Linked DNA regions of Homo sapiens. The protein of the gene in region 2 purifies or fractionates together with the protein of the main gene of each other region. This does not show direct contact. Each region holds a gene or a part of one and is shown on either strand. Other genes may lie near its edges. The genes, in order: MLLT11 and TRIL.

Evidence for each region.
Region 1: the proteins of TRIL (region 2) and MLLT11 purify together in Homo sapiens (co-immunoprecipitation; one study listed by IntAct). This does not show direct contact.

Annotation. Positions count from the first base shown.
Region 1 is NC_000001.11:151,066,527-151,070,158, forward strand, and holds the end of MLLT11 (protein AF1q), read left to right. Parts: intron 1-692; 5' UTR 693-698; coding exon 699-971; 3' UTR 972-3,018; downstream 3,019-3,632. UniProt on the Homo sapiens protein: Cofactor for the transcription factor TCF7. Involved in regulation of lymphoid development by driving multipotent hematopoietic progenitor cells towards a T cell fate.
Region 2 is NC_000007.14:28,955,251-28,959,658, reverse strand, and holds the start of TRIL (TLR4 interactor with leucine rich repeats precursor), read left to right. Parts: upstream 1-1,328; 5' UTR 1,329-1,612; coding exon 1,613-4,048; 3' UTR 4,049-4,408. UniProt on the Homo sapiens protein: Component of the TLR4 signaling complex. Mediates the innate immune response to bacterial lipopolysaccharide (LPS) leading to cytokine secretion.

The DNA.
Region 1 (3,632 bases), on a different chromosome or scaffold from region 2:
GGGAAGAATGGGCTAGATTTTGGAAGGCCTTGAAAATCAGACCCAAGATCAATTTGATGCAATAGATGGTAAATAAGTCATTCCAAGATGGGAAGTTTAGAAAATAGTAGAAATTCGGCCGGGCGCGGTGGCTCACACCTGTAATCCCAGCACTTTGGGAGGCCGAAGCAGGCAGATCACGAGGTCAGGAGATCGAGACCATCCTGGCTAACATGGTGAAACCCCGTCTCTACTAAAAAATACAAAACATTGGCCGGGCGTGGTGGTGGGCACCTGTAGTCCCAGATACTCGGGAGGCTGAGGCAGGAGAATGGTGTGAGCCCAGGAGGTGGAGCTTGCAGTGAGCCAAGATCGTGCCACTGCACTCCAGCCTGGGCGACAGAGCAAGACTCCGTCTCATTGAGAGAAAAAAAAAAAAAAAGTAGAAATTCATAATAAAGGGTTTCTGAAGCTTGTCCAAGGGAACTTGGATTCTCTCCAGAGGCAATTGGGGATGGTGAGTTTCTTTTTTTTCCTCCCCAAATTCCTTTTTACTGGTGGGATTGGAGGATATACAATTTTCTTTCTTTAATAGAAAAAAAAAAAAAAAAGAAATTCCTTTTTACCAGTATGTGGAGTATCTAAGCAAGGAAAGGCCATGGGCCACAAAGAAGTTGCTGTAGCATGAAGACTGACAAGTGGTTTCTTTCTAGGAAGCTATGAGGGACCCTGTGAGTAGCCAGTACAGTTCCTTTCTTTTCTGGAGGATGCCCATCCCAGAACTGGATCTGTCGGAGCTGGAAGGCCTGGGTCTGTCAGATACAGCCACCTACAAGGTCAAAGACAGCAGCGTTGGCAAAATGATCGGGCAAGCAACTGCAGCAGACCAGGAGAAAAACCCTGAAGGTGATGGCCTCCTTGAGTACAGCACCTTCAACTTCTGGAGAGCTCCCATTGCCAGCATCCACTCCTTCGAACTGGACTTGCTCTAAGGCCAAGACTTCTCTCTCCCATCACCTTGCCCTCATTGTCTTCCCTCTCAAGCCCCTTCCTTTCCACTCCTTTCCCATTTTAATCTTGTTCTCTCCCTACTGTGTTGGTGGTGCTGATGAATCTGCCAGAGTTGAGTTCTATGTATTTATTTATCTATCTGTCTACTCCATTTCTCTCAAAAGCCCTCAAGTCACAAAGTAAATGGTTCAAGCAATGGAGTACTGGGTCACAGGGATTCCTCCTTTCCCCCCCAAATATTAACTCCAGAAACTAGGCCTGACTGGGGACACCTGAGAGTAGTATAGTAGTGCAAAATGGAAGACTGATTTTTGACTCTATTATAATCAGCTTCAGAGATTCCTTAAACCTTCCTAATTTCCTGCTCCAGGGCAGTAAACACAAATATTTCTTCAAGGGGTGATGAAAACCTCGGAAGTTTTAATTTGAGGTTATCTGCTACGAAACAGTATTTCTAAAAGGCTAAAGTGATAAGTCTCTTGCTTTTTTTTGATCCTGCTCTTATATTCTTTTTTTTCCTCAGAGAAATCAGGAGGGTAGTTAGAGGTATAAAACAGGAGGAAATATTATGGAAAATGAAAATAGGGAAAATAATTGAATCATTTTAGAAGTAGCTAATTTCTTTTCTCAAAAGAGTGTCCCTTCTTCACACCTACTCACTTTACAACTTTGCTCCTAACTGTGGGTTGAAAACTCTAGCTAAAGAAAGTTATCAAATCTTAACATGCATTCCTACTATTATGATAGTTTTTAAGGTTTCAATTCAATCTTCTGAACGGCATAAGTCCTATTTTAGCCTTACCTCCTGCATTTGCAATACGTAATACTGATCAGTGGGCACAGTTCTTCAGCTACATTGAGACCCTGAAATGAACAATTATATTCTGACTCGACATCTTGTCCCCAATCCTTCCAAAAATATTGATGGTGATTTGTGCTACCATTTACTCGTTTATTTAATAAAGACATTCAATCCCAGGACTGGAGTCTAATTTTCTCTCTTCACAAGAAAAGCCACAGAAATCTGAGAAATTAGCCTTGCTTTCACACTTAGCTTATACATCTTTTTTTTCTTTTTTATTTTTGAGACAGGGTCCCACTCTGTCACCCAGGCTGGAGTGCAGTGGCGGGGATCACCGCTCACTGCAACCTCCACCCACCAGGGTCAAGGGATCCTCCCACCTCAGGCTCCCAGGTAGCTGGGATTACAGGCGCCTGCCACCAGGCCTGGTTAATTTTTGTATTTTTCATAGAGACGGGGTTTCACCATGTTGGCCAGGCTGGTCTCTAACTCCTGACCTCAGGTGATCTGCCCGCCTTAGCCTCTCAAAGTGCTGAGATTACAGGCGTGAGCCACTGAGCCCGGCCTCATTTTATCTTTCTATAATAATATTCAACTTAGAGGAAGAATGATTTGAGTAGCATTTAGACATTAGATGGTGAACTTCGCATTGAACAGATAATGAAAGGGCAAAATCAACTTAAAATTAGAAAAGTAGTTAGGGAGACAGGTACAACCACTCTTCTGCTTGCCCACTGACTACCAACATTATATTTCAGGTAATAATTCTCCTAGGTGCCTAAGAAGATAAACGAATTCACTCAAATATGTTATCTGCTTAACTTCTGGTTTTTGTGTGCCTGCTATAGGAAAGCACTGAGCCAAACAGAATGTAAACGGGAATGAGACAAGACTCCAACTCTCAAAAGAGAAACTGTAAATACCAATATGGATAGGACAGAATTGGGCAGTGTACTATAAATAAGGATGACACTATACCCTAAATAAGGATGATCTAGAGAAGTCCCCAGGTGGGAGAAAAAAAGACAAATCCTCCCTCTAGGCCATGAAAAGCCCACATCTAAAGACGGTCCCAGTCTAACGAAGAATGGGGCCAGGAAGGATAAGTAGTGCGTCCTTTTCTATTTTTACTGAGTTTTGAAGGGCCCCTTCAGAGTCCTTCAGCCATGGCAATTGGTGGGTGGAGACAGGGATCAACTGTTTGGTAAATAAAGTGACTAAATGGATTTGCAAACTCATGCTCCATCCTCTTGCAGGCCTCCAAAAAGAAATGACTCAGGCCGGGCGCGGTGGCTCACGCCTGTAATCCCAGCACTTCGGGAGGCCGAGGCGGGCCAATCACTTGAGGTCAGGAGTTCGAGACCAGCCTGGCCAACATGGTAAAATAAAACCCCATCTCTACTAAAAATACAAAAATTAGCCCAGCGTGGTGGCGGACGCCTGTAATCCCAGCTGCTGGGGAGGCTGAGGCAGGACAATCACTTGAACCCGGGAGGCAGAGGTTGCAGCGAACCGAGGTCACGCCACTGCACTTCAGCCTGGGCGACGGACGAAGCGAGACTCCGTCTCAAAAAAAAAAGGCCGCGCGCGGTGGGTCACGCCTGTAATCCCAGCACTTTGGGAGGCCGAGGCGGGTGGATCACGATGTCAGGAGATCGAGACCATCCTAGCTAACACGGTGAAACCCCGTCTCCACTAAAAATACAAAAAAATCTCCGGGCGTGGTGGCGGGCGCCTGCAGTCCCAGCTACTCCGGAGGCTGAGGCAGGAGAATGGCGTGAGCCCGGGAGACGGAGCATGCAGCGAGCCGAGATCGAGCCACTGCACTCCAGCCTGGGCG
Region 2 (4,408 bases):
TCTTTCCTTTAATTTTCCACATTGTTGCAGAGTACGTCCTCAAAACTTACGTTTTCTCAACACCTTGGATAGGGGAAGGGCCCTTATTTTTTAGCAAGATGGTTTATATAAAGAAACAATAATTAATAATTAACAACTCCTCCTTGTGTATTCTCATTCTCAGCAGGGGCTGATCCCAAAGGAGCCGTTGATTAAATGCTCCATTCCCTAGAGATAATAAATAATAATGCTTCCCCAACTGAGCCAGGCCTGAACATTTTTGGGCCTAAAGACTTTGAAGATCACTGCAAGTCCAGGCGTAAAGCAGGAGGGCCCTGCAAGGAACGTTTACCTTAGGATCTGTGAAGGTTATTATGTATGTGCACACGAGCAGAGCCTACCCCAGGGGCTCTATTACTGTAGGAGAGTTAATGCGACTGAATCACCAAAATGTGGCAGAGACACTTTCATGTTGGCAGAACCAGTTCTGTGATTTCTTCATGTTCTAGCCCACAGCAGGATGGAGTAAATACTCCCTTCAGACACCTAAAAGGGGGTGGTGCCTCTCCTCAGCTACTAGTCCAACGACGTCAAAACCCAAGCAGCAACTGTCAGACTGGGTTCACCTACCCCCTTCTGATGGCCTTCTGCAGGCAACCTTGTGCTCCCCCAAACTTCCTGTAGAATGCTGGCGGACTCCGTGCTGCCCAAACTTCCCGCAGGGTGGCACCTGGAAGAGCAAGTGACTTAACAACGAGGAAGGCCAGGCGCGCTCCCACTGCTCAGAAGCGGCTGGTGTACTCGTCTAAAATAAAAAGGTCTCTGTCTGCAAATCCCGTTTGCTAGCCCGGTAATCCTCCCCCGCCCCCGGCCTAGCGTGTCCGGCCCGTACAGCTGTTTTTAATCCCTACTTTTCTCACTTGGCATCCCGGGCCCGGGCTGACCAGACGCGGAGCCACTTAGTGTTTCCTCCTCCCCCTGCCGGGGTCTGTCCTCCCTCTGCCGTCTCCTCTTTCTCCGCCTGCGTCCCCGCGGGCAGAGTGTGGGAAGAACGAATTTCCGCCCCGTTTGCTCTCCGCTCGCAGACTTGGGTCCCTTCCGGACGCAGCCCGCGTGCTCCCCGAGCTATTGCACTGGAGCCGCCCTCCCCGTCCGGGACCGCGAGCGAGAAGGTGCCGTCTGCGGGGGCCGAGCAGCCGGGGCTCTGCTGCCAAGCCGCGCCCCGCGAAGCTCTTGGAACGGCTCCCGCCTGCAGCTGGGGAATCCACTCGGCTGGGAGAATCCGCGCCAGGGAATCCAGCTCTCCGGACTCAGCTGCAAACAAAAAGCGCCGGGTCTTGCTCCCTCCTCCCGCCCGCCGACGCGCACCCGGAGAAACAGTTTTATACAGAAATGCAACAAGTAGTACCCGGGGTCTGCAGAGCGCCCCGCGCCGCCTGACTTGGCCGGGCGAAGCCCGCCTGCAGAGACCCGGGCCGGCCTCCGGACAAAGGACGGAGGAGGGGCTGGACGGCGCTGCGAAGTCCGAAAGAGGCCATTTAGCGACTCTGGCCAGGCTAAGGGGAATGCAGAGGAGACACAGAGCCGGCGGGCCAAGAGGACGATCCGGCCGCTGCACGCAGGGCGGGAGGCGATGGAGGCTGCCCGCGCCTTGCGCCTCCTGCTCGTGGTGTGCGGCTGCCTCGCGCTCCCGCCGCTGGCCGAGCCCGTGTGCCCGGAGCGCTGCGACTGCCAGCATCCCCAGCATCTCCTGTGCACCAACAGGGGGCTCCGCGTAGTGCCCAAGACCAGCTCGCTGCCGAGCCCCCACGACGTGCTCACCTACAGCCTCGGCGGCAACTTCATAACCAACATCACGGCCTTCGACTTCCACCGTCTGGGGCAGCTCAGACGGCTGGACCTGCAGTACAACCAGATCCGCTCTCTGCACCCCAAGACCTTCGAGAAGCTCTCGCGGCTGGAAGAGCTGTACCTGGGGAACAACCTCTTGCAGGCGCTCGCCCCGGGCACGCTGGCCCCGCTGCGCAAGCTGCGCATCCTCTACGCCAACGGGAACGAGATCAGCCGCCTAAGCCGCGGCTCCTTCGAGGGCCTGGAGAGTCTAGTCAAGCTGCGGCTGGACGGGAACGCCCTGGGGGCGCTGCCGGACGCGGTCTTCGCTCCCTTGGGCAACCTGCTCTACCTACATCTGGAGTCCAACCGGATCCGCTTTCTGGGCAAGAACGCCTTCGCCCAGCTAGGCAAGCTGCGCTTCCTCAACCTCTCTGCCAACGAGCTACAGCCCTCCCTGCGCCACGCGGCCACCTTCGCACCGCTGCGCTCCCTCTCCTCCCTCATCCTCTCGGCCAACAACCTGCAGCACCTCGGGCCGCGCATCTTCCAGCACCTGCCACGTCTCGGCCTGCTCTCGCTCAGGGGCAACCAGCTCACGCACCTCGCGCCTGAGGCCTTTTGGGGCTTGGAGGCCCTGCGCGAGCTGCGCCTGGAGGGTAATCGGCTGAGCCAGCTGCCAACTGCGCTGCTGGAGCCTCTGCACAGCCTGGAGGCGCTGGACCTGAGCGGCAATGAGCTGTCCGCCCTGCACCCGGCCACCTTCGGCCACCTGGGCCGGCTGCGCGAGCTCAGCCTGCGCAACAACGCGCTCAGCGCCCTATCCGGGGACATCTTCGCCGCCAGCCCAGCCCTTTATCGGCTGGATCTAGACGGCAACGGCTGGACCTGCGACTGCCGGCTGCGAGGCCTGAAGCGCTGGATGGGCGACTGGCACTCGCAGGGCCGGCTCCTCACTGTCTTCGTGCAGTGTCGCCACCCCCCGGCCCTGCGAGGCAAATACCTGGATTACCTGGATGACCAGCAGCTGCAAAATGGATCCTGCGCGGATCCCTCGCCCTCAGCTTCCCTGACCGCTGACCGCAGGCGGCAGCCCCTACCCACGGCCGCAGGGGAGGAGATGACGCCACCTGCAGGTCTCGCGGAGGAGCTGCCGCCGCAGCCGCAGCTCCAGCAGCAGGGGCGATTTCTAGCTGGGGTGGCCTGGGATGGGGCCGCCAGGGAGCTGGTAGGCAACCGCAGCGCCCTAAGGCTGAGTCGGCGGGGCCCGGGCCTCCAGCAGCCCAGCCCCTCCGTCGCTGCCGCCGCGGGCCCGGCTCCACAGTCCCTAGACCTGCACAAGAAGCCCCAGCGGGGCCGTCCGACTCGGGCAGATCCCGCCCTCGCGGAGCCCACCCCAACGGCCTCTCCTGGCTCTGCGCCATCGCCCGCCGGCGACCCCTGGCAGCGCGCGACGAAGCATCGTCTGGGCACGGAGCACCAGGAGCGTGCCGCCCAGTCCGACGGTGGGGCCGGGCTGCCGCCGCTGGTGTCCGACCCATGCGACTTCAACAAGTTCATTCTGTGCAACCTGACGGTGGAGGCGGTGGGCGCAGACAGCGCCTCGGTGCGCTGGGCCGTGCGCGAGCACCGCAGTCCCCGGCCGCTGGGCGGCGCGCGCTTCCGCCTGCTCTTTGACCGCTTTGGCCAGCAGCCCAAGTTCCACCGCTTCGTCTACCTGCCTGAGAGCAGCGACTCGGCCACGCTGCGCGAGCTGCGCGGGGACACCCCCTACCTGGTGTGCGTGGAGGGCGTGCTTGGGGGCCGTGTCTGCCCTGTGGCTCCCCGGGACCACTGCGCGGGGCTGGTCACCCTACCGGAGGCCGGGAGCCGGGGCGGCGTCGACTACCAGCTGCTGACCTTGGCCCTGCTGACGGTCAACGCGCTGCTGGTGCTCCTGGCCTTGGCGGCCTGGGCGTCTCGCTGGCTGCGTAGGAAACTGCGGGCTAGGCGGAAGGGCGGGGCCCCGGTCCACGTTCGGCACATGTACTCCACCCGACGGCCCCTGCGCTCCATGGGCACCGGCGTGTCCGCCGACTTCTCGGGATTCCAGTCGCACCGGCCACGCACCACCGTGTGCGCGCTCAGTGAGGCGGACCTCATCGAATTCCCCTGCGACCGCTTCATGGACAGTGCGGGCGGCGGCGCGGGCGGCAGCCTGAGACGGGAGGACCGTCTCCTGCAGCGATTTGCCGACTAGGTCCAGGGCATATAGAGACCATCTCATTGGCCCTAAGGAGCCGCCTCTCCGTGAGGCCCACCAGCCCACCTCAGGGGAAGTGCCGTTTTGTGCACTTGCCAGAGAGGCCGGTGGGGACAGAGGGCCAATTCGGGCACCATCCCCCAATTCCCAATACTCGAGAAGTAAATGGATGGTACTTGGTGGTCAGAGCCAGAGTAGGGGACAAATGGATGGTGGGATGCTGAGGTCGGAGGCTTCGCTTGGAGGCTTTGACACAGCTATGCGAATGGCTTTTGTAGCACTGCAATGCAGAAGCCAGGCTTTGGGGGTAGAAAGGGGGTGCTTGTGCCCCCAACATGGCCAGAAATATTTGGGTGC